7 separate regions of the Homo sapiens genome follow, and all the other regions are reported to be linked to region 1. The links are microRNA targets in miRTarBase. Many come from high-throughput screens and were not tested one by one. Region 1 holds a microRNA gene; each other region holds the end of a gene's coding sequence.
The links. The annotated mature microRNA hsa-miR-3671 reads AUCAAAUAAGGACUAGUCUGCA and lies in region 1 at 1,803-1,824, opposite strand. An mRNA with a match to its seed (bases 2 to 7 or 8) in the 3' UTR can be bound and repressed. Matches are read on the target gene's strand: a 7mer-m8 pairs with bases 2 to 8, a 7mer-A1 pairs with bases 2 to 7 and ends in A, and an 8mer does both.

Region 2: miRTarBase lists KCNS2 as a target of hsa-miR-3671. Seed matches in the 3' UTR shown: 7mer-A1 at 3,365-3,371 and 7mer-m8 at 3,823-3,829.
Region 3: the mRNA of NLRP11 is a reported target of hsa-miR-3671. Seed matches in the 3' UTR shown: 7mer-m8 at 3,946-3,952.
Region 4: the mRNA of MC2R is a reported target of hsa-miR-3671. Seed matches in the 3' UTR shown: 8mer at 1,384-1,391.
Region 5: the mRNA of CERKL is a reported target of hsa-miR-3671. The part of its 3' UTR that is shown has no 7-base or 8-base seed match.
Region 6: miRTarBase lists OR9Q1 as a target of hsa-miR-3671. Seed matches in the 3' UTR shown: 7mer-A1 at 1,170-1,176.
Region 7: the mRNA of NFATC2IP is a reported target of hsa-miR-3671. Seed matches in the 3' UTR shown: 7mer-m8 at 3,345-3,351.

What each region holds. Positions count from the first base shown.
Region 1 is chr1:65,055,960-65,060,295 of GRCh38, forward strand. It overlaps MIR3671 (microRNA 3671), which reads right to left and starts at 1,883; the gene lies at 1,796-1,883. It overlaps MIR101-1 (microRNA 101-1), which reads right to left and starts at 2,549; the gene lies at 2,475-2,549. It also overlaps a transcript of JAK1 not described here.
Region 2 is chr8:98,428,960-98,433,295 of GRCh38, forward strand. It overlaps KCNS2 (potassium voltage-gated channel modifier subfamily S member 2), which reads left to right. Exons shown (of 2, transcript NM_020697.4): 2 at 1-3,894. The coding sequence ends at 454. It also overlaps a transcript of STK3 not described here. Among named protein-coding and RNA genes, the nearest start is that of KCNS2, 4.2 kb to the left of the region's middle.
Region 3 is chr19:55,781,595-55,785,930 of GRCh38, forward strand. It overlaps NLRP11 (NLR family pyrin domain containing 11), which reads right to left. Exons shown (of 10, transcript NM_001394894.2): 10 at 3,805-4,277. The coding sequence ends at 4,031. Among named protein-coding and RNA genes, the nearest start is that of RFPL4AL1, 15 kb to the left of the region's middle.
Region 4 is chr18:13,880,811-13,885,146 of GRCh38, reverse strand. It overlaps MC2R (melanocortin 2 receptor), which reads left to right. Exons shown (of 2, transcript NM_000529.2): 2 at 1-3,103. The coding sequence ends at 522. Among named protein-coding and RNA genes, the nearest start is that of MC2R, 33 kb to the left of the region's middle.
Region 5 is chr2:181,534,595-181,538,930 of GRCh38, reverse strand. It overlaps CERKL (CERK like autophagy regulator), which reads left to right. Exons shown (of 13, transcript NM_201548.5): 13 at 687-2,259. The coding sequence ends at 747. It overlaps ITGA4 (integrin subunit alpha 4), which reads right to left. Exons shown (of 28, transcript NM_000885.6): 27 at 3,996-4,115; 28 at 1-3,499. The coding sequence ends at 3,404. Among named protein-coding and RNA genes, the nearest start is that of ITGA4, 79 kb to the right of the region's middle.
Region 6 is chr11:58,179,435-58,183,770 of GRCh38, forward strand. OR9Q1 (olfactory receptor family 9 subfamily Q member 1) reads left to right here. Exons shown (of 3, transcript NM_001005212.4): 3 at 1-2,182. The coding sequence starts at 11. The coding sequence ends at 943. Among named protein-coding and RNA genes, the nearest start is that of OR9Q2, 7.5 kb to the right of the region's middle.
Region 7 is chr16:28,962,999-28,967,334 of GRCh38, forward strand. NFATC2IP (nuclear factor of activated T cells 2 interacting protein) reads left to right here. Exons shown (of 8, transcript NM_032815.4): 8 at 707-4,094. The coding sequence ends at 865. NFATC2IP-AS1 (NFATC2IP antisense RNA 1) reads right to left here and starts at 3,446. Exons shown (of 2, transcript NR_186408.1): 1 at 3,418-3,446.

The DNA.
Region 1 (4,336 bases):
GAAAACAGGAAGATCAGGGAAGGTGGTGAAATCTTCACCAAGGCCAATGATTGCACAACACATAACTTCTTGAAGCACTTTTTTCCACCTGCTCAAACACTAAACATAAGGAGTGTTTCAAATTACTTGAGGATTCACCAATCCCTAACTTTCCCTTCCTAAAAGTTCTTCCAGAGTTTCTGTCAGAAATTCCTTTTAAGAAAACTCCAAAGAATTTCAGGAGTGGTAGCATAATAACTGGGGAGACCCCTCTCTCTAATTAATCAAAAACGTAGTGTAGCTTATATAGCTTAGAGAAATTGTGGATCTATGAGGACATGTGAAGGTACTGGGCTATAATGTGGTCAATGTGTCTGAAAAAATAACAGTTCTGGGCCAACCAAGTGTGGCTCAAGGGATCACTACTAAGAATGGTTCCTCTTTGGGTAGAGCAGAGGGAAGAGACACTAAAGGGAACTGCAATCACCAGCAAAGGAACACAGTGACCATCAATGTCTGAGGACTGGCACAATGAAGGATAAGAAAGAACCTCTCTGTACGAGGCCTACTCCCTTTCAGTTCCCTTTCTTCCCCATTGTGTCCCAGTGGAGGACCTGATAATACACCTGACCCATATCTAAGACATGCAGTTGGCAGGGCTGATAGTAGGTAAGGTTCACAGTATGTTAAAAAGTCACACGAGGCCGGGTGCAGTGGCTCAATGCCTGTAATCTCAGCACTTTGGGAGGCTGAGGGTAGGAGAATCACTTGAGGACAGGAGTTTGAAACCAGTTTGGGCAACATGGTGAAACACCATCTCTACCAAAAATACAAAATTACATGGGCATGGTGGTGCACACCTGTAATCCCAGCTACTCGGCAGGCTGAGGCATAAGGATCACTTGACCCCGGGAGGCAGAGGTTGCAGTGAACCAAGACTGAGCTACTGCACTCCAGCCTGACCGCAGACTGAGACTCTTTCTTTAAAAAAAAAAAAAAAAAAAAAAGTCACAAATGGTTTTTCTCTCCCTGGCCCCTCTTCTCTCTGTGGTAGGTAGGTTCAAATTACAGCCTAACCTCAGCCATCTCTGTTCTCTTTGCTCAAGCATATGGGTCACTGCTTTGGGTTCCTACACCAGTCAGACATCCACAGGCTCCCAGATACAGACATGAGCCTAGGATGAGGTAATATACCCGATTAGGCTCTGAGCCTAAAACACGTTCCATGAAATTACCTGAGCCTTCCTTGCACAGTACTGTGATCTAAGATCTAACACATAATCAAGTCATGCACTTTGTTTCTTATTTGCTATTGTTACATGTGTACAGTGTCCTTAGGAGTCTACAGGGAAGAGGGATAATTGGCAGAGATTGGCATTGGCAGAATCCTGGGTTCTCCAATAACCACCTTTCACCCCCAGCAGTACTCTCTAGAGTAAGATGGAGGTTGAAGATGTGTGCTGTTAAATTTCCTAATCCTGGCTGGGTATAGTGGCTCATGCCTGTAATCCCAGCACTTTGGGAGGCTGAGGTGGGAGAATCAATTAAGCTCAGGAGGTCAAGACCAGCCTTGGCAACATAGTGAACTCCTGTCTCTACTAAAAATTTGCAGGTGGGTGGCCTGAGCCTGTAGTCTCAGACTCGGGAGGTTGAGGTGGGAGGATTGCTTGAGCCTGGGAGATCAAGGTTGAAGTAAGCTATGATCATGCCACTGCACTCCCGTGTGGGCAACAAAAAAAAAATTTCCTAGTCTTTCATGCACGTGATGCTGGCTTGGTGTTTACAGCTTCGTATTCCTGAAATCGATATGTGCCAGATATCACTGCAGACTAGTCCTTATTTGATAGAAATAAAATAATTTACATTTTATTTTCATGTAAATGTGACAGCAGCAGCAATAACATAGGCATTCAGTAAATATTCTTTTGAATTAGGCCAGATCCTAAATATCCTGAAAGAAACATGACATGTCACTATCTACTCCTTCAAGACAAAGATATACTTTTTTTCTTTCTTCACTTCAGTAAGCTGGTCTACAATGATGGACTTTTATTTATGCAACAATTTCAATACTGTTCAACATATTGGGCTTTTTTTTTCTCCCTGTAAGTAGAATCTGATTTTGAAATCTAGTAGTGTACTGACAAGTGCCAAGCTGTTCTAATTAGGTTACCTTTCACATTTATAAAAATGGTACGAAGTTCTCTGAATACCATTCCAGAAATACTAATTCATACTTACCTATTTTCAGTCTCCTAAAGGTTCCAAAGATCTTAATATATGTTCACTCAGCACAACATGGCTGCACCAACAACTACCCCATGTTACAAAACAAGGCAAAGAGAAGCAGAATAACTCTCCCTATGCCCCGGGAGAAGTATGACAGAGGTGCAGGGTAAGAGGGTTTCTGGGTCCCAGCCACCTGTTTCACATTCCTCTTTCACCTTCTTTCTTCCTGGGTACGGTGAGGCTCCTCTGATGGAAGGTAAGATGGCTGCCATCCTTCAGTTATCACAGTACTGTACCTTTAGAATAGACAGCATCAGCACTGTGATAACTGAGCCAGGGCAGCCTGTCAGTCACTGTGTCGGTCAACGGCATCCTTTCTGGTGGCTGCATTACTCTCTCTGAAGGCTCCCCATGAAGTGAAGGACTAAAAGATCACCTTCTGGTTGGAGACGTGAGGAGGCAGAAGAAAAAGAAGGATCAGAGCCCAGCAAGTGGTGAGGCTGAAATATTAAAAGGCCCAGTTGAATTAAATTAGAATGAAAGATGAACACATGACTTATCCATATTAATGAGGATGAACAACTGCATGATTAGGTTTTCACTCTAATACATCAAATATGCAGTAAGCTTCCAGCATATTTCACAGCTTATCTCTTCCATGCATGGATTCACTGACTGTGCCTCCCTGACCTCAATCATTGATTTTTCATATATATACCGAGGAACTACTACGTTCTAAAGCCCTCTTCTAGATGTTCAGGAAATAAAGATAACTAAGACATGATTCCTGTCTTCAAAGTGCTCATAACCAAACATGACAATAATACTTCATATCTGCCAAACATTCAAAACTGCTCTATATGTTTTCTCATTTGGTTTTCACAAGACGCTATGGGGCTGGCAATGAATTATTCATTAATTCATCAAAAAAGGATTCTGGAAATAGATTAGATATTATTACCCCATTTTATAGGCAGAAAAAAAAAAAAAAAACTTAGGTGATTTGCCAGAGATCATATATTGCTAAGTTATGGCGAACCCATGTCCAGAACCATGTCAAATGAGTGAACACAGTGCTTTGTTTTCTCTACCCTACCCTAGCTGTCCAACTCCATCAACTGGATATTCAGTTTACACAAACAAAAGGATTTCTAAAAACATTTACTTTTTGTTTTAGTTTTCTCAGTAACTGAGATCATGAAGCAGAAGCTAGTGGGGCTTTATAATTAAGAAGAAAAATGCACATTAGCAAAAATGACTTTCATTCCTCTTGCTCTGAGTGCTAAGAATGTACTCAAATTAGTAACATTGATATTTTTCACTATAGTTTATGTCAATTCTATACCTATGGTGATACTGACAACCTTCAGAATACCTTTTTAAAAAGTAATAATAACATATACACATCACTTGCTTTTAAATTATCTGTACCTTTGAGACGTACTCTGAAGTCATTTTAGGGATGATTCTTCCTTTTAATAAAAAGTACAAAAGATTCTGAAATTGGAATTCAGGCATCAGAATATCAACTTATTAAAACCATGATTCACTTGGGTTTTTTCCATGTCATAAGGTTTCAAGTTATTTCAATATGAGTGGAACTTGACAGATATTTGAAAAATAATTATGTTTTCATTAGGCATTTGCTCAATTTCAAAGACTCATTATATGCATATTAGATATTAGCACTGTACTTCAAATAAGTCAGGTAGATGAATCAATTCTTTAGATCAGCAGAAGTCAGAAAATAAAAGTACAGTGAATCTAACTCAACTATTAACTTTACGTACTATGAAAATGACCTTATCTTCAGAAAAGCAACATCCAATGAAACAATCCACCTACACACAAATTAAAAACAACATTGCCTAAAATGCAAAAATATCTAAAAATTAAGGAGGTCATCATCTAGGTCTTAGCCAACTGTAATACAGAGTTGAAACACGAGAGGGCAACGAAGATTAAAGAAAAAAAAAAAATCACAGTTGGATCCCATAACCTAAGGTTCTTGGAAATAGTTGCACATTTTTACCCGAATTATAAACATCTGCTACGTGAACAAAGATACTGTGATTATTTTAGAGTAAAATTTTAGATAGCTGTTCCACGAAAAAGGATAAGATTATCA
Region 2 (4,336 bases), not on the chromosome of region 1:
AGAAGTAGGGCTGCTCTTGCTCTACCTCTCCGTGGGGATTTCCATCTTCTCCGTGGTGGCCTACACCATTGAAAAGGAGGAGAACGAGGGCCTGGCCACCATCCCTGCCTGCTGGTGGTGGGCTACCGTCAGTATGACCACAGTGGGGTACGGGGATGTGGTCCCAGGGACCACGGCAGGAAAGCTGACTGCCTCTGCCTGCATCTTGGCAGGCATCCTCGTGGTGGTCCTGCCCATCACCTTGATCTTCAATAAGTTCTCCCACTTTTACCGGCGCCAAAAGCAACTTGAGAGTGCCATGCGCAGCTGTGACTTTGGAGATGGAATGAAGGAGGTCCCTTCGGTCAATTTAAGGGACTATTATGCCCATAAAGTTAAATCCCTTATGGCAAGCCTGACGAACATGAGCAGGAGCTCACCAAGTGAACTCAGTTTAAATGATTCCCTACGTTAGCCGGGAGGACTTGTCACCCTCCACCCCACATTGCTGAGCTGCCTCTTGTGCCTCTGGCACAGCCCAGGCACCTTATGGTTATGGTGTAAGGAGTATGCCCAGCCCCTGAGGGGAGAGATGCATGGGATATGCACCCAGGTTTCTTTTACAGTTTTTAGAATCGTTTTTAGAGGGTGGTGTGTCTGACACCATGCCTTTGCACCTTTCCATGAAATGACACTCACTGGTCTTTGCATCGTGGGCATAAAATGTTCACCTTTTTGCCAGATGAGTACACCCAGAATGCTAATTTTTCTGTCCATCGTGTACGCTATTCTAGTGCTTGTGGCCCAGTACTGTCTATGAGTTGTCGTGCTCCTGTTTCTGAGGTTGTCGTGTGAGTTCTGTACAAAAAGCCCCCACAAGTCGTCCAGTAGAAATGCATCTATGAGGTCAGCAAGGATATGATGAGATTTTGCTCACAGTCATGTGAAAACAAAATCTCAGCTCTTTATCCATTGCTTTCACTTAGTTTTAGTACCAAAACAAAGAGAATGCAAAGTTAAGCAGACTTGACCAATGCAAGTCTCTAAGTTGTTTTTATAAATGATCTGTAGTTCCGTGGCTTGCATGGGTGCACCAATCATCTTTAGAACGATGTACACTGATGTTCATCTCATAAATGTCACTCTTTAGAGAATGTTACTTAGTTAAACATGCAGTGAAGATCGAATTTTTTTCCCAAGAACAGATGTGTTAGGGAGAGGGGCTTCAGCTAAATAGTCCAAACCCTAGGGTGCTTAAAGCCAAGTTAGTGCAGGCTGAGCCCCTTGGTTCACAGTCAAGCCTCCTTGTTTCCTAGGGTGACTGTAGAGAAATGTATTTCCGGATGAGGTTTCTGATCTAGGCCATTTGACCAAACTTTGCTGTGTCTAAGATATTAGCATGTTTTTGAAATATTTATTTTTTAAGATGTTTAGGAGTAAGGTCGTGTTGTCTTCCTCAACTAAAAAGAAGTTTACTGTTGTATCGTCTCCCTGAGGTGAACGTTGTTGGGTTGCTAGCAAGGGCAGTAGCTTAAATACTTTTGTTGCCTACTCTGAAAGCTCATCAAATGAGAGCCCTTTTATTTCCAAGCAGAATTTAGTCAGATAATTTTGCTTCTAGGATATAGTATGTTGTATATGATGCTGTGATTGCCCTGGAGTTCCTGCCATGACATGGAAACCTGGTGGTATGGAAGCATGTACTCAAAATATAGACGTGCACGATGGTGGTGTGGCTTACCCAGGATGGAAACACTGCAGTTCTTACTTGCATTCCCACTGCCTTTCATGGGGGGTGACTGGGTAGAGGCCAGGAGAAAGGAAAGAGTTGTAAAATAAAAAACTGCTAGTTCATAAAATGTCATAAAAAATTGTAAACTTGAAAAGCTTAATGCTATTCAAAAGACCTTCAAGCTTCCAAACTTGTATTGAAGGGAGACGACTGTTTCCTCCTCCAAAATGCTCCTGCTCCTCTTGTTCGGTTAACCAGCACATAACATTGTGATGGGGAACCTGGGTTCCTCTATAAGATAATTCTTCTCCATCATCTTTAAGGTAATCTGATGGTTTTCCAGGTGGCTTTCATTATTGTTCCATCTTTGAAAAGGCAATAGAACCCAGGGGTCTGAGCATGGAGCTATCCAGGGTTTTCATCCAAAGGTTGGGCCTCTTCTTAAGAGGTCCTTTTGTGTTTCAGTTGATTGAAGATGATACTTACCTCATTGGAGGTGTGGCAAGGATCTTATCAGAAGGCTTTGTGTTCTTGTAGTTGTCATGGCTACTACAGTGTGGGTGATTTATTGAATGAATTCACTAGCCACTTGTGTCCTGGAGCCCCCAGTTCAAATCTTTCCATTGGACTGGAGGCTTGTGGGAGGCTGGGAGGTGGCTGTCTCCTAGTGTCTACATCCGTGTCTCTGAAGCATCAGGAAAAGTGAGATGACTTAGAGGCAACTGGGCACTGAATCAGAGGAGCAGAGTTATTTTTCAGAATTTGCACATGGAACACTTAGATTTGGCTGGTGCTTCCAGCCCTGGAAGGCATAACATTTACGGACTCATCCCCAGCTGCACTGAAGGCAGGTGGTGGTACAGACTTATGAGGACGGATCAGTTTGCCAAGGCTGATGGTATTGGGTCACTGAGCCTGGTATCCATGGCCGCTGACCAGGAAGCTTATGCAAAGTGGAAGCAAGGAACAAGGCAGAATAACTCAGTCACTTTCATGAAGATTTTTCTAAACAAGAAGGCTTACCACCAAAAAAGAGGTACCCTAGTGGTTACCCTTTGCAGATGTGAAAGCTGGAAAACTTGACTTTTCTTTTTGGTAATGACTTGCATTTATCTGGTGCCTTTCGTTGGAGGAATCCCAACGTGCTTTAGAGACTATCTTTTTAACATCTCTTGTACATACATATATACTTATATAAAATATTATCTTGCCCAACTGGACCTTTACTCACTTCTGAGCATGAGAATGTCCCAATAGCATTGAGTTTTTCAAGTGGTGGTTTCAGATAAGTGGGAGAAAGAACAACCCGGCTGGCTTAAACCCTGGAGCTAATTCCCACAAGGAATGTAGACTGAATGGTGACCCAGGGAGAAATAATCTTCCTCTCCCCTAAAGTCTCACTAAGGTTTGAAGTTTACAGGTGCTCTCCACTGGGTCTTTGATCGACCTTGCTAGATAACATCTAACCAGCAGTTTCTTTTAGTCCCTGAAGCTAACCAGGGAGAGTCAGGTTAATTTTCTGTAAAAATATGAGGTGACATCTTTGGCAACCAGGCTGTCAGACTGACCTGTAAACCTCCTTTAGGGGGACAGAGTAGAAACTGGAGATGACTTGTTTCCAGCTGTGAGCTTGAGAGAAGTGTCACTCCCAGCATTTGAAGGTTATTGTTTTCAATGCCAGTGGGCCAAATATATGGGCCAGGCTTTGATATCTGTGATGTGCATTTTGGAAGTGCTGGGTTGGGAAGTGACACGTCTGTTGCACAAATGCATATTGGTTATAGGTTTGTGTTTTCTGCCAAACCCCCACATTTCTCGGGTTTGTGAGTGAGGAAGGGCATGTTGTAATGCCAAGCTGATTTGTAGCTCGTAAGGTAGTAATTGGTATTTAACATTTGCATTTGTTATTTCTACTTATCTTAGCACTCAAATAATTGAACTACCTGCTAATTCTTGCCGCATTTCAAAGAAAATAAGTTGTTATGCACTTTGGGATAGTGGTGATCTGTACAGGCTGTGTGTTAGCTACTTGAAGGCGTAACTGGTATTTCTTGTGTGTTTTAACAGCATGACTTCTTACAGAGCTGTAATTTTTAAAATTGAGGATGCCATATTTGAGATGTCAGTTTTAACACTCATTAACACACTACTGTGCAAGCATTGACACAGGCTGCACTGAACCATTATGTCTGATTGCTGCACTTTCATCTCTGTGCCTCGATTCGGGAATGGGCAGTAATACTGACACACTCGGGACTCCAGCCTCAAAAAGTGTGCAGATTAAATAGACAAAAATTATTTGCATCTCTTGGAGGCATTTCAATTACATATGCAGTAGCAAACAAGGAGGGCATTCAAAGTTGGGGACCAGATTTCCTGAGAAAGCCTGGGTGTTTTTTTTGTTTGTTTGTTTGTTTGTTTTTGCAATTTGGGGAAGGAGAAGCTGTTGTTTATTCTTGGTAAAGGCGGAGTCCTAGTTTTCTAGGATCTCGAACCACTAGCCTCCTTGGTAGAAGGAATGGTCCTGTATTCTTGTAACTCTTGTGAAACAGACACCCCTGCAGGATTTTCCTCCTGCATGCTTTCCTGCTCAGCACCTCTGTCAGCCTGCCCTGCCAGCCCCAA
Region 3 (4,336 bases), not on the chromosome of region 1:
CTGGTTCCTTCTTAAACTTTCTCTTTATTCATGTTCTCTATTTGATGAGGAGTTATTCCTCTGGTTTATTTTTGTTCTTCTGCCCTTGATTTTCTTGAGTTCTTTGCACATATTTAAGATAATTAATTTAGTATTTGGAGAGGAAGCCCAATGTCTTGGCTTGCTCATATGCTATTTTTTCTTACGACTATTATACTGTCTTGTGTGTGTGCCTCATTGTTTTGGTAAGAAAAAGTGGACACTGTGTGTGGCAAACCCTGGACATCAAATTCTCACCCCTGAGCAGGCTTTCTTGTTGCTGCTGGTTGTGAGTTGGAGTCTTCTGTTTTTGTTTTCATTTTTTGTTTTGTTTGAACCTTTGTAAACTACTGTGTAAAGGTTTCACTTTCTCCTGTGTGGCCACTGAAGTCTCTGCCTTCTGGTCTACTAACAATTTGATGGAGATTTTTAAAACATGCCTGAACGCAAACCCAAAATTCTCTCAAGCTCTTTGCCATGGGATCCCTCTAGGGAGCTTAGCCAGGATTTTGATTTTTTTTTTTTTTTTTAGACGGAGTCTAGCTCTGTCGCCCAGGCTGGAGGGCAGTGGCGCGATCTCGGCTCACTGCAACCTCCACCTCCCAGGTTCACTAGCCAGGATTTTTACAACTCTCATTTCAGCCTTCATTTCCTGCTTGCATGGAGCCTCGGGATCATCAGAGGTAAAACATAGGGTTTCTCAGATTTTTATAATCTTGCATGGACATGTATGATTGAACTCAATCCTTGGTATACCTCAGTGCTATTCAAAGCCCTTACTATCTCATGTAATTCTCCCCCCAGACTCTTCCTTAATAGGCTTTTCATTCTGTCATCTGTTTTCCCTGTTATCCCTCACCCAGGCAACTTCAGCAAGTGTATTTGTCTTTAAGTGCTTTTAATGACACTGGCACCCCCCAATAAATCAGCTTCAGTCTGTGTAGATCTAAAAAGGGTGAAATAAAGGCAAGCCCTTGAGCCAACCCTTCAAGGAACCACTAAGATAGATGGAGGCACACAACCACAATTCTTTGAGAACAAAGATTCTTCATCCTGTGGCATCAGCGTGCTGGCCTGGGAATGAGGGACTCCATGTTCTCAGCAGCCATCAAGCTGCAGAGTGGGGAAGAGTAGGTGGGTGAGTCAAATTACCACAACTCAGCTGGGTGCAGTGGCTCACGCCTGTAATCCCCGCGCTTTAGGAGGCCGAAACGGGCGGATCACCAGGTCAGGAGATCCAGACCACCCTGGCCAACATGGTGAAACCCCATCTCCACTAAAGATACAAAAATTAGCTGGGCGTGGTGGTGGGTGCCTGTAATCCCAGCTACTCGGGAGGCTGAGGCAGGAGAATCGCTTGAACCCGGAAGAAGGGGCTTGCAGTGAGTCGAGATCATGCCACTGCACTCTGGCCTGGTGATAGAACAAGATTCCACAAAAAAAAAAAAAAAAAAAAAGCCACAACTCTCTTCCTGAAATTAAGCAGCTTCTTCCTTCACTCACGGTTCCCCTGGAGGTTGTAAATTATTAGATTCAAATTTTCCACAAAGGCTGATTTTGACAGTTATTTCCCAGTTTAATTTTTGTTTTACCAAAGACTACTTTTAAAATTCCCTACCTTGAAACTTGCAGTGAGATCACTCCATTAATTTTAAACAGAATTTTAAAATTCTGATATTATTGCTCTATATGCTCTAAATAGGGCTTTTGTCTATTTGTAGGAATGCTTCCTCTCAGTGCAAATTATCTAGAATAAAGAAGGGAAGTCTGTTTCTCCAAGGAGAGGCACAGGAGGCAGGGCTATATAGGTAACCTGGATGACAAATTACAATATGCCATGGAGTATGTGGACATTGAAGATATGCAATATTGAGGTGGGAAGATGGCTTCAATGACTTCAGAATTTTCAGTCATGGGAAAACAAGAGGTTTCCTTAAATTGTGATAGCCTGGCCGGGTGCAGTGGCTCACACCTGTAATCCCAGCACTTTCAGAGGCTGAGTTGGACGGATCACTCAAGACCAGCCTAGGCAATATGGTGAGACCCCTTCTCTACTAAAAGTACAAAAAATTAGGGGGGTATGGTTGCATGCATCTGTGGTCTCAGCTACTGGGGAGGTTGAGGTGGGAGAATCACTTGAGCTCAGGAAGTCGAGGCTGCAGTGAGTTGTGATCGTGCCACTGCATGCCAGCCTGGGCGACAGAGTGAGATCCTGTCTCAAAAAAAAATTATCTTATTTTAGAAACATGTCAGAAAAATCAAAGAACAAGCCCAGTTGAAACTACAGTAAGATCCTTTGATTCACCTTCAAGGTTTCTTTCCACAGCTGATTATGACTTGATTCTGAAATCAGAGTTTTGAAAAGGAACATAGAAAACACTTTTAGCCAGTTATTCTGCTAATCATCAGAATCTTCACATCATGTCCAGAAGTTGCATTTATCAGAAGTGGCTGAGGAGGTTTTGCATTGGGAATCAAATATTCTCATCAGAGAAGCCCCAGACTCACTGAGGCAATGTCACTGAGAGATACTACAGATGACATGATCGTGACATCTCTGTGGGGAGATCAGGTCCAGGAGCCTGTCTCTAACTAAGGACTCAGGTGCCCCAGCTTATGGTGACTGACACATCCCTGTACAGAGCTTGTTGCCAAGACCACCCCAGTGAGTGCTTCTGTACATTTAGAGCAAAAGGCAGAACATAAAGATCTCAAACAGGAGAAGAGCTCAGAGCTGAGGGTGAGCAATAGCATTGGGCAAAATAGGTTTACCCCTGCCTGGCTCTGAGCCACACCATCCATGCCCCGGCTGGACCAAGACAGTGGCACATTAAGCCAGGTGCTTGGCTTGAGCTCCTGGCTCAATGTGGGACCAGAAAGCTCAGGTTTACTGTATACCCCTGTGTCCTAGAAACACTGTCAAAGGGAGAAATTAGGACAGTTCTCCTTAGAAACTGAGCCAAGGATCACTTGAGGTCAGGCGATCCAGACCACCCTGGCCAACATGGTGAAACCCCATTTCCACTAAAAATACAAAAATTAGCTGGGCATGGTGGTGGGCGCCTGTAGTCCCAGCTACTCAGGAGGCTGAGGCAGGAGAATCACTTGAACCCGGGAGGCAGAAGGCTGCAGTGAGCTGAGATCACACCACTGCACTCCAGCCTGGGCAGCAGAGCGAGACTCCATCTCAAACAAAAAAAAAAAAATTTTTTTTTCAGCACGTAAAGACCCTAAAACCTACCCACCTTGAGTAGGTATCCTCTCACCTATGGAGGCCTATTAGGTACAGCAACCAGATGCTTAGCAATGGGGCATTGTAAATACAGTGTCAGGGTTGGAAACATTATCAGAGGATGCCCAGTTCAACTCCCTCTTCTGAAAGAAGGTGAAAAGGAGACGCTTTTTCTGAGGCCACACATATCTGACATTTCTCCACAGCTTAGAGAAGTCACCCTTCATCCCATGGAACACACACAAGTTTGTGAGCGGAGCTGGCTAAGAGCAGGGGAGATACGGAAATGAATGCCAGTTACGGTGTTAGGTAGATCCGGGAAGAACATGGTGCAGCAGGAATACGAAGTCAGGAGGGAAGGTGAGATGAGGATTTCATTTCGAAGGATTCCTAGGGACACCTTCTAACAACTCTCCCTAGACCAAAACAAAAACAAAAACAAAAACAAAAACAAAACCCAGAAAAACAAAAACAAGAAACAAACCATGAAAGGATCATAGTTTCTTTAGTGTTACTCCACCGTGCCCACTGATGAAACAATCATGCTTCACAGCTTTTTCCAATGCATTTTATCCTTTATTACTTCATATAATCCTTTTAATACTCTTGAGACAGTGTAGGAATTTGAAGTGGTTGACTGGATCAAGGTCACACACACACACACACACACACACACACACACACACACACACACATCAAATAGGAAAATTATAGTCCTAATTCTCTTGCATCCCAGTCACGGTAGTAATTTATAATAAATACTGTTTACGTACAACATGATCAAAGGGGTTGCCTAGATGCTGTATTTGACGTTCTCATGGCTGCAGACATTCTGGGAAATTTGAAAAACATGTAATCCAAATTAGAATTAGGTATTATTGAACCTGGCTGAGAAGCAGGTGTCACACCAATTTCTCTGCCTTCCTTTAAAGACCAAGTTTCAGACAGAAAGATCAAACTGGGTTTTCTTTCCTTTACAGTCATCAGCAACTGCTGGGTTTGTGTGTTCAGGCCAGTTAATGGAAGCCTGAAGGAAAACAGAGAGAGAACGCCGTTAATGCTACATGTGAGGTCTCAGCTTTGTTG
Region 4 (4,336 bases), not on the chromosome of region 1:
GCTGCGGACCGCTACATCACCATCTTCCACGCACTGCGGTACCACAGCATCGTGACCATGCGCCGCACTGTGGTGGTGCTTACGGTCATCTGGACGTTCTGCACGGGGACTGGCATCACCATGGTGATCTTCTCCCATCATGTGCCCACAGTGATCACCTTCACGTCGCTGTTCCCGCTGATGCTGGTCTTCATCCTGTGCCTCTATGTGCACATGTTCCTGCTGGCTCGATCCCACACCAGGAAGATCTCCACCCTCCCCAGAGCCAACATGAAAGGGGCCATCACACTGACCATCCTGCTCGGGGTCTTCATCTTCTGCTGGGCCCCCTTTGTGCTTCATGTCCTCTTGATGACATTCTGCCCAAGTAACCCCTACTGCGCCTGCTACATGTCTCTCTTCCAGGTGAACGGCATGTTGATCATGTGCAATGCCGTCATTGACCCCTTCATATATGCCTTCCGGAGCCCAGAGCTCAGGGACGCATTCAAAAAGATGATCTTCTGCAGCAGGTACTGGTAGAATGGCTGATCCCTGGTTTTAGAATCCATGGGAATAACGTTGCCAAGTGCCAGAATAGTGTAACATTCCAACAAATGCCAGTGCTCCTCACTGGCCTTCCTTCCCTAATGGATGCAAGGATGATCCCACCAGCTAGTGTTTCTAATAGCTAGGTTCTATGTGAACAGTCTTATTGTAGGGGCAACCTCTTAACTTTGTGACTGGACAGATAAAACGATGTAGTAAAAGAAGGATAGAATACAAAGTATTAGGTAGGTACAAAAGTAATTAAGGTTTTTGCCATTACTTTCAATGACCAAAAATTGCAATTACTTTTGCACCAATCTAGTAAAACAGCAATAAAAATTCAAGGGCTTTGGGCTAAGGCAAAGACTTGCTTTCCTGTGGACATCTAACAAGCCAGTTCTGAGGTGGCCTTTCCAGGTGGAGGCCATTGCAGCCAATTTCCAGAAGTTAAGTACCTGGACATGCGACTCCAGGCAGAAGATGTAGGGTCTCTGTAAGCCAATAATAAATTGGAAGGAATGCATTGCTGCAGCTGAATTTGTCTGTCTCCCACAGCCATGTGGAATCTCCACCCTCCTCTTTCTCCCTGTTAGTCTGATGTATTGATGCCACCTCAGTTTCAGAAAGTAGGCTGAGTATAAACTATAAATGTCAAATAACGAGCTTCGAGTTTCCAATGATAAATGGACCTTCTCTGTTAGTCTTCTTTGCTCACTCAGTATCCCACTGGCCTTAAAACCCTTTCCTGTTACATTTCCTCATGCTTTATGAGCATACATTTCAAAGGAAGAAATGAAAATTTAATCCATTTAGTTCCCATGTGGGAATACATAAAGGCCAGATGAAAATTGTCACTATTTGAAGAAGCTGTAACCAAACTATGTGTGTTACAATGTAGAAGTACAAGAAAAGAGCCCCAACATGTATTTTAAGAAATAAAGAGAGAGAGACAGAGACAGACAGAGAGAGAGAGAGAGAGAGAGAGAGAGAGTGTGTGTGTGTGTGTGTGTGTGTGTGTGTGTGTGTGTGTGTGTGTGTGTGTATTTTCCCCATGCTTTTGGACTATGGGGAAAACCAAAACCAAAGCAAGACATCAAGCAATGGTGCTGTTATTATAGCCCCAAGTCAAAGACCTGAGGGAGGCAAACACCACCTCATTCTGCAGATGAATGTGAAAGCAGACCCAGTCACTGGGAAATGTCATCCTCCCATCAGCCAAGATGCCAGCAATGGAAGAGTGGCAACCCCAGTAGGAATAAAAGAAACATAATTTGCAAGTTCATTCATTTTTAATAGCTAAAAATCAGCTTAAAGGAGAAGCACATCCTGATTGTAAGTCCCCACTAAGTTGGAGGGTGACTTGAATGGGGTGAAAGGTGAAAGGGACAGAGGAGAGCAGTGGGGCTTCAGAGGCCACCAGGCTCAGGATCTGCAGGATGGATGGTATCTTCCAGAACAGGCAATGCTTTGCCCTCAGGAGAATTTCCCAGAGCTGCTGAGGGGAGAAGACAGCCACACACAGGACAGACCATTTGGTGATGGGTTTGATATTAGAAGTGGCAGGGACAGGAACTTCAGAAGCAAAGGAGGCAAGGCAGCTGGAGTCAAGTGAGGACAGTGGCAGGCGTGCTTTCACATGGCCTGTCCCACAGATGGAGGTGAAAGGTGCACCTTCTTGTCCTCTGTTCTGTAGAAATCCTTCCCTGTTTGATCCTTCCCCTGCCAAATGAACTATGTTACTCTAATACTAACCTGTATTAATTAATATATGAGATATATATAAGTTAATTTTTCATGAAATCTAAAGCACAACCCTAGAACTAATTTTTAAAAGTGTTATTTCTACCATTGAAAAAGTAATGTATAACATATTTTATGTGATTAAAGTGCGTATTCTCAATAAGAGGTAACCTTTTTTTGATGCTGCAATGCTCTGTGATACCACAGAGGTAAGCAATGCCACTTAACCTGTATCATAAATAGTCCCAAACTGCTCTTCCTATAAAATTCTGCCTTTGTCAACAGCTTTGCTGTCTCCTAATCACTCTCAAGCTCTCTGCTGTGCATGTGACTGTTGTCAGAAGGAAAATCACCAAGAAACTTCACCTCTCACTGCCTTTGATTTGTTGCAGTTAATCTAAGAAACAAAATGAAGATGGCTAGTCTAATGGTGGATGAAACAAAAATGAAGTCTGAGTGCTAATTCAGAGAACTTGCAATTCCAGACATTTTCAATTCTAGGTCTTCTGCTATATTCCAATCAGAACAGAAGCTTCAGGGCTCATAGTTACTGAGAAAACTCACGTTTTTCTACCTCTAACTTCATATAGAATTCCAAATGAAAGCACCACCAAACTGCACATATTTGTGTGAGGAAGATCAACAAGCTTCAGACTTTTCCCATGAGGACTTAATTCTTTTATCAAATTACCCAATTTTTAAACTGCTGTGTGGATACTGTGAGTGTTCAGCTTTATCGATGACCTAGCCTTGGACCAGATAGCTGAAAATGTTCAGGATGTGTACTCAAGCTGATAGTAATTCTGAGCCCTGTCTAATAAAAAAGGAAGGATGTTTCCTCTTCCTCTCCTCATTTTCCCACCAGGTCATGGACAGACAAGAGAAGTTCAGCAAACACCGCAGCTGCCCCTGCAGCCACACATGTGTTGAGCTATGGTGAGAAGAGCATGGGTTAGGAGTCCCTGAGAAGCACGAGCAAACCAGTCAGTGAATTCTGAAACGTGGTCAGAGTTGCTGATGTTTATGTGGCTGTAGCAAGATATCTAGTAATAATAATACAAATAATAACAGCAATAATAATAGTACCTATCTATTACGGAGCAGTTGCTACAAGCCAGGTATTGTTCAAAGAGCTCTACATGCATTAATCCTCACGACTACCCTAAGGGCAGGTGTATTATTGGCCTCATGTTTTTAGGTGAAAAAGCTGAAGTTCAGAGATAGTAACTTCTGCGGCAGGCAGACTCTAAGGTGGTGTTCAGAACCCCTCCCCCTGAAGTATGGATAGGACCGTGACTTGCTTCTAACCCATGGAATGTGGCAAATGTGATGTGAGGTTGCTCTCATGATTACAGTCCATTATCTAAAACCCTGTCTTGGCCAGGCATGGGAGCTCACATTTGTAATCTCAGTGCTTTGGGAGGCCAAGGTGGGAGGATTGCTTGAGCCTAGGAGTTCAAGACCAGACTGGGCAACATAGGGAGACCTCATCTCTACAAAAAATAAAAAATAAGTTAGCTGGTTATGGTGGCATGTGCTCTAGACTACTCAGAGACCCTGTTACTAAAAGAAAAAAAAACATAATCTTGCTAGCAGACATGTTAGAGAGCCTCTGCTTTCTGACTTGATGAAATAAGTGAATATGCTGGGTAACCCCACATGGCAAAGAACTGCTGGGGCCTGTAGGAACTGCTGGGGGTCTCTGGGAACTGCTGGGACCTCTATGAACTGCTGGGGGCCTCTAGGAACTGCTGGGGGCCTCTAGGAACTGCTGGGGCCTCTAGGGACTGCAGGAGACCTCTAGGTACTACAGAAGTGATGCAGGATTTTTCTCAACCACTTTGTCGAATTTGCAATGGGGGTTCCACATTTACTCGGCCCACAGCGCTCAACCCCCTGTGGAAGGGAGCACGTGATTAAGTGAGTGCAGGATCCAGCCAGCTGCTTTGGGTGCCAGCAGGAGCAAGCTCTATGCAGACCCTGCGGTAGTGCCCAGGTGGGGGTGCCTGTGATCCCCAAAGTCCCTGAGGGCATGTTATAATGCTCTCTTAGCTCCACTCTCCGTGGA
Region 5 (4,336 bases), not on the chromosome of region 1:
TAAAAAGCAACTTTACATTTATTCAACTGTTATGTAGACCCAAGGCATTTTCTTTGGTTATGCGTGTCTACATTGGCTTTCTAATTTATTGTTGTGCATAAACTACAGATAATGTCTACAACTTCCATTTTGGATTTTTAAAAATGGATCAAGATCTTAAATCTTTTAGTGGAGCCATCTGAATAGTAAAGTGTTAGATTTTTATCCTTCCATCTTAGTTTCCTCTCACTCATAATTACTGTAACATGTTTTGTTCAGTAATTTGCTTTTATTAGGCCTTTACAGAGCATTCAACTTCCCTTGGGAACAATTTTACATAGCAACTGGTATAAACAGGTTTAGGAACCTGCAAACGCATTCTTGGTAGGCATTGTGACACTCAGTGGTTAGAAGAAGCATGCAGGGGTGCCCACTAGACATGGGTGTTCTAGAGGCATAACTGACTGTTTTACAGAGGTAATGGAGAGCATTGGACAATCAAGGAAGTCAGTTAAGGAGGTTTTAGAGCAATTATTGTTGTTGATGATTTATCAATCAGACCTTCTCAGTTTTCTAGATTACAGCTCTGTTGGGAATGCTGTGTTTGTTATCAATTTGTATTTGGCATTGGCATTGTGTACCATACTTATTAGGTGTATGTGAAAAACAACAAAATAAGTTGATGAAATAATGTATTTTCTTTACAGATTGCATCCAAGACTTATCAGTCTTTATGGAGGAAGCATGGAAGAAATGATTCCAAAGTAACATGTAATTGTTTCTAAAAGAAATGTACAAACTAGAATTTTAATATAAAGAAATGTGGCCATGCTTTAAACCTGTGGTCCCCACCCTTTTTGGGACCAGTTTCATGGAAGACAATTTTTCCGTGGATGGGGGAATGGTTTCAGGATGAACTGTTCCACCTCAGATCATCAGGCATTAGATTCTCTTGAGGAACATGGCACTCTAGATCCCTCACATACCAGTTCACCATATGGTTCGCACTTCTATGAGAATCTAATGCTGCTGCTGATCTGACAGGGGGAGGAACTCAGTAATGCTCCATTGCTCTAACCTCCTGCTGTGTGGCCAAACGGATATCCTAATAGAAATTGATGTTACTAACAATTAGCCTCTAGGGCTTTAAAAGTCAAGATGAAATATCAATTCAAATTCTGTTTTTAGATATCAATTCAAATTCTTTTTTTTACAATGTGTTTATTGGACACACAAAAAAACTTTGCAACCATCATAATACATCAATATTTAACCTAGATAATTCTGAAATAATTTGGATTCTTTCATTTTTCAGGATTTGAGCTCATCAATTATGTTAAATTTCCTATATTCTGTTACAAATATAATACAGATTTCATAAGTCTGCCTTGATTCACTGCTCCCTAATCCAGAGCAGTTAAATTTCAAAATCACATAGTTATATAGCCTACCTGCCAAAAAAGAATAACCCATCCCTGTCTTCTTAAAGTGGTAGGGTTTTAAAATTCATGATACAAGTAACAAAGTAAGTTGATAACAAATACTATTTTGAACTGGGCAAAATCTAGCCCAATATGTAATTGTGTTCCCCTTGTATCTGAGAGGCCTGTGTTGGACAACCATAGTACTCTGCTTTCACTGTGCTCAGATAACCTGAAATATATAGTTGTTTCTGAGTAGTTCTGAGTAGGAAAGAACCAAATGTAAATTTCCTTAGAGACCATCCTGGAGAAGACAGTTCTAAATCGGGGCTTGATTTTTCATCTATGATCCTAGATGTTCTCCTGAAAGAATGACTAGCCTTTTTATAACGATACAAAGTTTTTTAAAAATACATAAATGTCATAAAGTTTATTCCTGTGTATACACACTCTGGGTTCAGGAGGTTTTGTGCTTACATTTCACTACTCAAATGCCTTCGCAAATCTCAGAACATTCCTCACCATCACTGCAGGCCTGTGAACAGATAACTTTCATCAATTAGGATGGCTGGCTAGTGGCAGGGACTTCATATAAAGAAATCTTTCCCAGAATTGTTTTTCCACATTGCCTTCTAATTTGATCACTCCCTATAACAGATGTTCAAAATTCGGCCACAGCTCTCTTATGAAGGCAGAGTCAGATAAAATGATATTCTGCAATTATCTAGATCATAAGCATAAAATAAATATTACAAAAATGATTGTATTTAAAGAAATTTTTTAAAATCCAGAAAGTCATTTAAAATAGAACCTCATATAGTATGAACAAACTATAAAAATATTTTACATTTCATGAAAATTTTGCTGTCGTCTCATTTATATTCACTGTATACAAATTGAATCAGTATCTTTCAGCTAAATTTATGAATTTAAATTTATGAATTTTGTTTCTTCGTTTCCATGTAAGGTAACACTTATACTTGTAAAGGGTAACAAAGAATTACATCCAAGGAAATAGTTGTGTGATAGTCAATATTTTACATAGTACATAATACATATGAAGTATAGGCCCCCTAGTCTTTGCACAGCTTTGATTTTAAAGTTATTAGTGAGGTATGGTTTCTGTATTTTCTAAATCAGCGTGTATCAGGTAAAGTGCAACACTCACAATCTTTTGTTTCAGAATATAACAAAAGATTTGAAGATTACTCCTGGGTATGCTTGATAAAGGTGTGTTATAGGAAGAATAGATAGGAAGAATGGTAAATATATACCTACATAAAAACACATGTATATATACAGAAAGAAAGATGGTGAAATCCATAATTATAAAAAAATAATTATCCAGAAGTAATTTCACTAAGCTCAAACCAGTGTACATGTTCAGTCTGAAGTTTGCCAGTTTGGCCTATAATACTATAATATTCATAGTCTGCTGAAAAAAAATGGTTGTTGGAACACAGCCCGTAGGAAATGTATTATAAATAAAGGGCTTTAAAGTGATAATGGTCCACTCGTTAGAAAATTTGGGAACAGCTCTCTAAAAAATTATATTTTTAAAGAACATATTTTGAACAAGTATCAAAGATGTATTTGAAATGAACCTCTGCCCACCCAGTGGGGTTCATTTTACTGAGGCAAGCACATATGGTAAGTAGTATTTCAAGTCTAAGACTTCTCCAGTATAATTTAACTCAGTTATACTTTCATTTCAAGATATCTTCAAGGGCTTACTTTTCTTGAATAAATTGAATGCTTTAGTGTTTCTCTACCCATTTAAAAGCTGAGAGATTATCTTTGGCTGTATTATTACCTTTGCAGTTCTTCTATCTCAAAGAGTAATCATTGCTGAGATTTTCCCCTTGCATGAAGACATAATATGTCACAAGATCATGAGTAAAAGAAGTCCAAACAAAATTCATTTTTTCTTGTAAACAGTGTCTTTTAAATTTCTTTACTACAACCTGAGTCTGTTTTCCATTCTCTCAATTTGAAAGAAGTCCTTAATCATCATTGCTTTTACTGTTGATATAACTCCAACTGTCTCTTCTGTTTTCTTCTTGTAGGATAGATTTGTATTGTCTTTTAAAGAAGCCAGCCTGAAAATAGCATAACATAATCACTAGTGTATAGTTATGAACACTCTCTTATCTACTATACTCATTTCTAATATCTAAGCAGTTAACACCAATATTTCTTAAACTGCATCCCTTGTAACATCAGTCATAAAGGTTTAACAGAGGTAATCAGTAAAAATTAGTGGGGACATACTGGGTTAAAGAAACATTTTTGTTTTTAATGCAGAAATTCTCAGTGATACACACCACATTCTCTCCAAAATTGACATTCCGTGTAATTTGCAATCTTTTCCAAATGGTTTTTTAAAAGGAACGTCTGTCTTTCAAAACAAATTAAGAATGCATATTTTTCTAGAAAGACTTTGGTGTTGAAGAGAAATGTGAGATCAGTACTGAGCAACATAAAAAGTTAACATTCAAATAGTGAAATATTTAAATCTAATAACTTGGAAGTCAAATTGGCTTTGAGAAAATGTCATTTTTAGTAGACTAATGTTGGTAATTGTTAAATGCTTACCTTCCACATAACATATGAGATCAATAGAAGTACAATAAGTCCAAGTAGCAAGCTACTTGAAATAATCACTATGGTGAAATAACGTTTGGGTCTTTGATGATGTAGTCCTTCCAGTAGAACCTACGTGAGTTAAGAAAAATAAAACTCAAAAACCAAAAAAAAAAATCAGTTTAAAACGTTGCTTATATTTCCTTTAAAGCCCTGCCATAATCCCCAGTAGTATTTAGAACTGCCCAGCCCATTTTCTTGCTGGTTCTAATATAATTGCAGGAAACACTGGTAACTGTTTAGCAGAAACAGTGAGTGTAATGGGCTGTATCCATGACTTTTCCTCCAATCTA
Region 6 (4,336 bases), not on the chromosome of region 1:
CACTGGTGTCATGGCAGAGATGAACCTCACCTTGGTGACCGAGTTCCTCCTTATTGCATTCACTGAATATCCTGAATGGGCACTCCCTCTCTTCCTCTTGTTTTTATTTATGTATCTCATCACCGTATTGGGGAACTTAGAGATGATTATTCTGATCCTCATGGATCACCAGCTCCACGCTCCAATGTATTTCCTTCTGAGTCACCTCGCTTTCATGGACGTCTGCTACTCATCTATCACTGTCCCCCAGATGCTGGCAGTGCTGCTGGAGCATGGGGCAGCTTTATCTTACACACGCTGTGCTGCTCAGTTCTTTCTGTTCACCTTCTTTGGTTCCATCGACTGCTACCTCTTGGCCCTCATGGCCTATGACCGCTACTTGGCTGTGTGCCAGCCCCTGCTTTATGTCACCATCCTGACACAGCAGGCCCGCTTGAGTCTTGTGGCTGGGGCTTACGTTGCTGGTCTCATCAGTGCCTTGGTGCGGACAGTCTCAGCCTTCACTCTCTCCTTCTGTGGAACCAGTGAGATTGACTTTATTTTCTGTGACCTCCCTCCTCTGTTAAAGTTGACCTGTGGGGAGAGCTACACTCAAGAAGTGCTGATTATTATGTTTGCCATTTTTGTCATCCCTGCTTCCATGGTGGTGATCTTGGTGTCCTACCTGTTTATCATCGTGGCCATCATGGGGATCCCTGCTGGAAGCCAGGCCAAGACCTTCTCCACCTGCACCTCCCACCTCACTGCTGTGTCACTCTTCTTTGGTACCCTCATCTTCATGTACTTGAGAGGTAACTCAGATCAGTCTTCGGAGAAGAATCGGGTAGTGTCTGTGCTTTACACAGAGGTCATCCCCATGTTGAATCCCCTCATCTACAGCCTGAGGAACAAGGAAGTGAAGGAGGCCCTGAGAAAAATTCTCAATAGAGCCAAGTTGTCCTAACCATCTCCAAACTTGGAAAATCCCGAGAACCACCTACTCTGTAGTGTCAGAATTCTGGACGCTCATTATTTATAGCATGCTCAATGTTTAAATGAATATATTATGGTACTAGGTATAAAAAAGAACCAGAACTTTTAGCTCCAGGGAGAGGAAGGAAGACAAGGAAAAGTCAACCTGAAAAGAGATTGGAGTGGGAGTTTTGATTCCCAGGACAAGTGACAAAAGGATTTGAAATTAAAGCCTGTGCAATCCAAATATGGCACACTTCACCTGTCTGTGATTATAAGAGTAATTTTTTTTGCAAAATTTTTAATGAAAGATTTTCATCATATAGAAATGTTAAAAATAATATGTAGGAAGTTTCCTATACTCAGTACTGAGATTGTGTAATTGCTAATATTTGCTGTCTTTACTTGGTTACATAGATGTAATCTATCCGTGAGTTTATTCATCAATCAATTCACTCATCAAACCACCTTTTTTTGATTCATTTCAAGGTGAGTTCCGGACATCAGCATTAGTACCCTTTACTTCTATGCACTTCAGAATTATATCATCAATTAGGATTCAATATTTAGATTACATTTATTTTTAATGATCAAACTATGGTCGTTTGATGATCCAATTAGCAAAGCTGACCCTACTCAAGGTATGCCTTAATATTCTGGTAGTAGTTCTCAAGAAGGCCTCACACAAACTTTTAACAATGCCTACAATAACATGTCTGTCAATTGCTATCACCTCTGGATATATGCCCTGTTCTTTTTCTTCCTACCTATTACAGTTCTCTCTCGTCATATGGCATGACTAAAAATCCACTTAGCAAAGTTATACCATTCCCACTGCCCATAATGGCGTCTTCAGTGTCTGTATCATAGACATTGACTCTCTGTGTTCTGAAAGCTTTTTCCTTCAGGGAGGCAGAACATTGCTGCATTCCACATGGCGATAGGCAGGAGGGTGGTCCTCGCCTATCCTGGGTCCCTGCACTCTGCAGCAGCTCAGCCTGCATCCAAAGCCTCACAAAATCTGTCTGTTCTTAATCTTTACTTCTCTAATCACAGGGGACTTGTCTCAATCAAACCCAAGGCACTGGAAGAGAGCAGGCCCCATCTATTAATTTTTTTTCATTTAAACAAATTTTTATACCTGGAACTCAAACTTCTTTTCCTGTCTCCTGGATTACTAAAAAAAAAAAAAAAAAAAAAAATCCAAAACCAAAACAACAACAACAAAAAATCCAGGGTACCCTGTATGTGATTGATATAAACAATTGTGGAAAGGGAAAGGTGGGGAGAGGGTGACGGTATCTTACAAACCTAGGATGATTTTAAACTCAGCCAGACAAAAATGCTGTGTGAAACACAGAATTCCAGTTACAAGACTTTAAATGGGAAGAAGATATGTGAAAGGTGGGAGACTCAGCATGCAGGTAGCCAAAGGATATTCAATGGAAGGTGGCTTATAGTAAAATAAAACACATCTGAATCTTTAAAGACATTATATTTATTCTAGAAGACAGAATATTTTAAAGTACATATTGTAATTTTCACAAGAAATATTTTATCCCTTTAATAGTGTTTTGTCTGGTTGTGAAAACCCAGGCTTAAAATTTATAGCTTTACTAAGGGGGATGATTAATAAATAGTATATGTGTCAATTGTGTTACAGGTTGTGTAAAAAATGTTAAAGAAATGTTGGAAAGCTTGAATCAGTGATATGAAATTCCCTCCTGGTTGTGTCTGTGTGAATAAAAGCAGTATACTAAGGAATTATTTGCTGTCTTAGAATCTACCAGAAGTCAGGAAGTACACGATGAATGGAAAGGGGCTACTAAGAGAATAAGTTGCCAGGTAGAAGAAAAAAAATGAATGCCTCCTTCTGATTAAATTCTAAACAAGTATCTGCAGATTTATGTTCAAGAAGGAAGGGCTAAGTGAAAAGGCTGTAGGAACTAGTGGTCATGAAACCCCATGTTGTATACGGAACATCATCTACTTTTTAGTCTATAAATAGAGCTCAGGAAAAGTTAAAAAATGCTTTCCATTTAGGTATGGAAGATGAGTCGGGGTTCAATTATGACATTTTTAAGAAAAGTTGACAATAGGGAAGTTACCTGATTGTAAATAGGTGTGAATATTTCCTTACATTCTGCTATACCTTGTGTTGAACTCATCCAAATAAAAAACCTGTGGTTCTTTTTGTTCAGTTATTTTAATTCTGGAATGGAAATCCTACCATTTTTGACAACATGGATTAACCTAGAGGACGTTATGCTAAGTTAAATAAGCAAGTCACAGAAGGACAAATATTGCATGATTTATATATGAGGTGTCCAAAAATATTATGCTGGTGCAAAAGGAATTGCAGTTTTTGCCATTACTTTCAATGGCAAAACCACAATACCTTTTCACCAACCTAAGTCAAGCTCATAGAAGCAGAGAGTTGCATGGTGATTGCCTCAGCTGGGGAGAGGAAGAAATAGGGGAATTGTTCAATCAGCATAAAGTTTCAGTTATGCAAGATGAATAAGTTCTGGCCACCTGTTGTACAACATAATATCTATAGTTAACAATATATTGAATACTTTAAAACATGTTAAAAGGATAGATCTCATGCTAAATAGTCTTACCACCAAAAGACCAATCAAGCAACCAAACCAAAAATCACAAACCCAGAAAACAACAAAAAAGAAAACCCACAAAAGAACATTAGAAAATTTTTGGAGGTGACAGATATATGATATGTGTATGTCCAAACTCACCAAAATGTATATTAAATAACTGTATTTTTTTTGCATAGCAATTATACCTCAATAAAGCTTGAAAAAATCTGCTTTTGGAAATCTGCTTAAGGGAAATCCAGGTTACTCAAACCAGGAAACACCATCTACTGGGATGTTTTGAATGTGGCTATAGTACCTAAAAGGAGAATAACAAGGTCTTCCGAAGAGAAACCTTGGACATCCAGCTCACAAGGGAATAGCAATGGTAGCATCCATCTGCATCCTGCCTGGTCTCACACCAGGCGCTCAGGCCAGCTCCTCCCATTACCTTTCTCAAGTGTCTGCCAACACAGGGTGCCCTTCAAGCAGACCTTCACTATCAGGGGCCAGGTCCTCAGGAGCTGTCAAAGAAGGGACTTGTTGGTAGCATGACCTTTCTAGTGGGCTTCAGGAGGGCCTCCCACCATTTTCTGCCCCAAACATGAATGAGATATTCTGGGGACCACACTACTTGGTACAAGATGGGGAGAAGAAAAGCCACAGCTCTTACCTGGTAAGTGCGAGTTGGCAGATATTACTTTATTTTGGTTGCAGTGGATATGAGCAATATAGCACGATTTTTGAGTAGCCAAGAACGACCTGAGTCCATCTTAAATCCCTATTTTTTG
Region 7 (4,336 bases), not on the chromosome of region 1:
ACAGAGAAACTGTCTCTACCAAAAATACAAAAACTTAGCTGGGTGTGGTGGCCTGTGCCTGTAGTTGCAGCTACTCAGGAGGCTGAGGCAGGAGAATTGCTTGAACCCAGGAGGCAGAGGTTGCAGTGAGTTGTCTACCAGTCCCACGGCATTAGCACTCGTCCCAATCCAGTACAACCTCAACTTGATTGCATCTGCAAAGGCCCCGTCTCCAAATCACATCACATTCACACTTAACAGGGGTTAAGACCACAAGGTGTCTTCTCTGGGGAACATAACCTGTAACATTTTTCTAAGGTCACATATCTAATAGGTGGGAGAGCCTGGCCTCCAGCTCGACTCATCCTCACTCTAGAATCTGGGCTCTCTTAGTCATTGGTACACACTTCTGTTTCATAGGGAAGGAGGCTGAGGCTAGGAGGACTTGCCTGACTTAGAGCCTATACCCCTAAGCCTTGGGCTCGTGGCCCCCGTCCTCTACCTGAGCAACTTGGAGCCCAGAGGGATGACAGGATTCGTCCCAGCTCCCAGAGAGGAGCCTGGCTGGGCTGGCTTCTTTGTCCTCTCTCCTTTCCCCGCATGGGGCCCTGACTTTATTGTTTCCGCCCCTGCCGCCATCCTCCCTGTCCCAAGTTCCTCGTCTATCCCTACGGGATCCCCGCCCCCTTTCATGTTCTGACGTCCATTTTCTTTTGTCTCCATCCAGGATTCCCCTCTAAAGACCCTCATGTCCCACTATGAGGAGGCCATGGGACTGTCGGGACGGAAGCTCTCCTTCTTCTTTGATGGGACAAAGCTTTCAGGCAGGGAGCTGCCAGCTGACCTGGGCATGGAATCTGGGGACCTCATTGAGGTCTGGGGCTGACACCCCACTCCCTGTTTGACGGCCCAGCCTGGACTTGGGGAGAATGACTTTCCCTTTTTTGCCCCATAAGGGCTAGCATAAGCTGAGGTAGAACTTATCTTTAAGCTGCAGCAAAATCAAGGAGTGACTTTTGTCCCCTCTCCTGTTGACCCTGGTTTAGAGCCGTTAACCACTTGGTGAGTTATGTGGGTGTTGTTGCCCTGGGTGGCCTGTGGCTCCGTCCACAAGTCATGCTGAGTTTTGCAGCCTCTGTGACTTGGAGATGTCCCTTCACCCCTCCCCTTTCACCACCATCCTCTTTTCCTCATGGAAATGTCTGCTTTATGAAACTATGCACATATTGAAAGTGAGTTGAAACAAATGAGGGTTGGGTAGGAGCTTCCAGGCCTGGGATTTACACCACGCCTAGCCCAGCAGAGGCCTTAGTCCCATTTGGGGCTTGGGAGTGACATTTGCTTGAGGCTTATACACTGGTGTGGTTGCCTGGCTTGCAGGAAATGACCAAGCTCACACATGCTGGCTGAAGCGTAAGCAGACAACTGAGGTACTCTTTTGAAGGATGAAGGTGGTGGATTCTCAGCCCTGGGGGTCTTCCTCACCTGAGGACCCTTCAGAGCCACCCTTTCTAGTTTGCATTTCCTGGTGCACACATTTAAGGCATAACAGCACATTCATCCCTTTGGTTTGGGATCTCAGGAATACAGTCCCATGCAAAGATTCTCTGGTTTTATGGCTTTTTTCCCTTTCTTTACACCATCCTCTCCCATAAGCACCCATGTCTTTGAATATGAATGTATTTGTAAAATACCACGTTTCATGTGTGAATATGTGCTTTTACTGTACATAGTGCTATTGTGCAATAGGTCTTATGCTGTTTTCACTCAATGTGTGCTAAGATCTAGCCCCATTGACTCTTCTAGAAATGCAGTATTGCTTTGACCTGCCATGTGGCACTCCACAATGTCAATTGCAGTTTACACACATTGCCTAAAGTGGGGGACACCTGGGTGCCCCTGACCCCTTGGCACCGGATACAGGCCACGATAAACATCCTTTCGTGTGTTCCCTTCTGTGCTTGTGTGGCATGTGTACCCAGGATGGGCCTATAGGTCACAGAGGTCAGTTTCTCTTTGGTTTTCCAGATTTTCTTTAGAACGGTGACTGACCCTCCTACTTGAGGCCGCCCTTTTCTCCTTATCCTTGCCAGCACTTGTATTGCCAGACTACCTAATTTTTGCCAGTCTCATGGGTAGATAGTGGTGCAGTGCTTTAACATACATTCATCTGATCAGCATTAATTTGGGGAATTTTTTCACTTAGCCTTTCTGGTTTCCCTTCCTGTGCATTGCCCATTTTCTCATGGAGTTTCTTATCTTTTTTGGTTTATTCTCAGGAGTTGCTTGTACATTCTTGGGCAATTGCAGATAATTCCAAGAATGCATATTTGGGCTGGGTATGGAGGTTCACTGGTAATCCCAGCACTTTGGGAGGCCCAGGCAGAAGGATCGCTGCAGCCCAGGAGTTCGAGACTAGCCTGGGCAACATAGCGAGACCTCGTCTCTACAAAAAAAAATTAAAAAGGGGGCTTTGGGAGGCCAAGGCGGGCAGATCATGAGGGCAGGAGATTGAGACCCTCCTGGCCAACATGGTGAAACCCCGTCTCTACTAAAATACAAAAAATTAGCTGGGCATGGTGGCGCACACCTGTAGTCCCAGCTACTCTGGAGGCTGAGGCAGGGGAATCGCTTAAACCCAGGAGGCGGAGATTGCAGTGAGCCAAGGTTCCACCACTGCACTCCAGCCTGGCGACAGAGCAAGGCTCCACTCAAAAAAAAGATTTAAAGGGGAAAAAATTGAAATTTTCTTTGTATCTAGGGGTATCCGTCACTGAACAGAAATTCTTAATTTTGGCTAGGCGTGATGGCTCAGGTCTGTAATCCCAGCACTTTCGGTGGCCGGGGTGGGTGGATCACTTGAGGCCAGGAGTTCAAGACCACCCTGACCAACTTGGTGAAATCCCATCTCTACTAAAAATACAAAAATTAGCTGGGTGCAGTGGCGCATGCTTGTAATCCCAGCTACTCAGGAGGCAGAGGCAGGAGAATCACTTGAACCCGGGAGGTGGAGGCTGCAGTGAACAGAGACAGTGCCACTGCACATCAGCCTGAGTGACAGAGAGACTTTGTCTCAAAAAAAAAAGAAAATTTTAATTTTAATGTAGACAGTATGAATTATCTTGTTCTGCAGTTGGTTGCTTTTTGATTGCTTATTTAATAGAGTTGTTAAGATATTTTACATCTTCTCCTGTTAGCTGTTCAGCTTTTCCTTTCATATTGAGAACACTACACAGTGCTGAAGTCCAGCTGGTACACACCGGGGTGACACCTTGGCTGCATCTGTTCTCAACAGTCAGACACTTCTTCTAATTGGTTGATGCTGGGCTGTACTGGTTGCTAAATATTGCACATCATTTTAAAACTATTTGAGATGCACTTTTGTACTCAGGAGGCCAAGGCAGGAGGATTGCTTGAGCCCAGGAGTTTGAGACCAGCCTGGGCAACACAGCGAGACCTTGTCTCTTAAAAAAAAAAAAAAAAAAAAATGAGAGAAATCGGCTGGGCATGGTTTCTCATGCCTGTAATCCCAGAACTTTGGGAGGCTGAGGCAGGTGGATCACCGGAGGTTAGGAATTCAAGACTGAAACCTTGTCTCTACTGAAAATACAAAAAAAAAAAAAAAAAAAAATGAGCTAGGTGTGGTGGCAGGCGCCTGTAATCCCAGTTACTTCGGGAGGCTGAGGCAGGAGAATCGCTTGAACCCAGGAGGCAGAGGTTGCAGTGAGCCAAGATCGCGCCATTGCACTCCAGCCTGGGCGACAAGAGTGGAAACTCTGTCTCAAAAAAAAAAAAAAAAATTCAGTGAAATACACCTTTATATATGAGATCCAAGTTTCACTTTTTGTGATATAATGAGCCAGTTTTCTCAGTAATGTCTACTAAAAAAAAAGCCATTAACCTTTCTCTAATATTTGCATGATTCTAATAAAAGTATGTCAACTTCTTAAAATGTTTTATTGAAATGTGGCATTCCTTTGAATTTTATGACATTAAAATAATCCACGACATGGTACAGCTCTTCACTTTTTCAGCTTTTTAAATGTCCATTAATAAGTTTGAATACGTTAAAATTATATGTTTAACCTCAACAAAATAAATGGCAATATGTTCAACTTGTGTATACTGGAGGATTTTTGTCTTTGTGGCCCTCATGTGACCCCCACTAAGATCCTTGTGACAGAGACAGGAATAAGATCCTTATTCCTTCACATCCATTCTTCCTCCTTCTGTGGTACTAGAACCCATGGTTTTTAGCGAGGCACAGAGACACTCAGAATAAAAACAGTGGCCAGGCATGGGGGCACACACCTGGAATCTACCTAGCACCCTGGGAGGCTGACGTGGGAGGATCGCT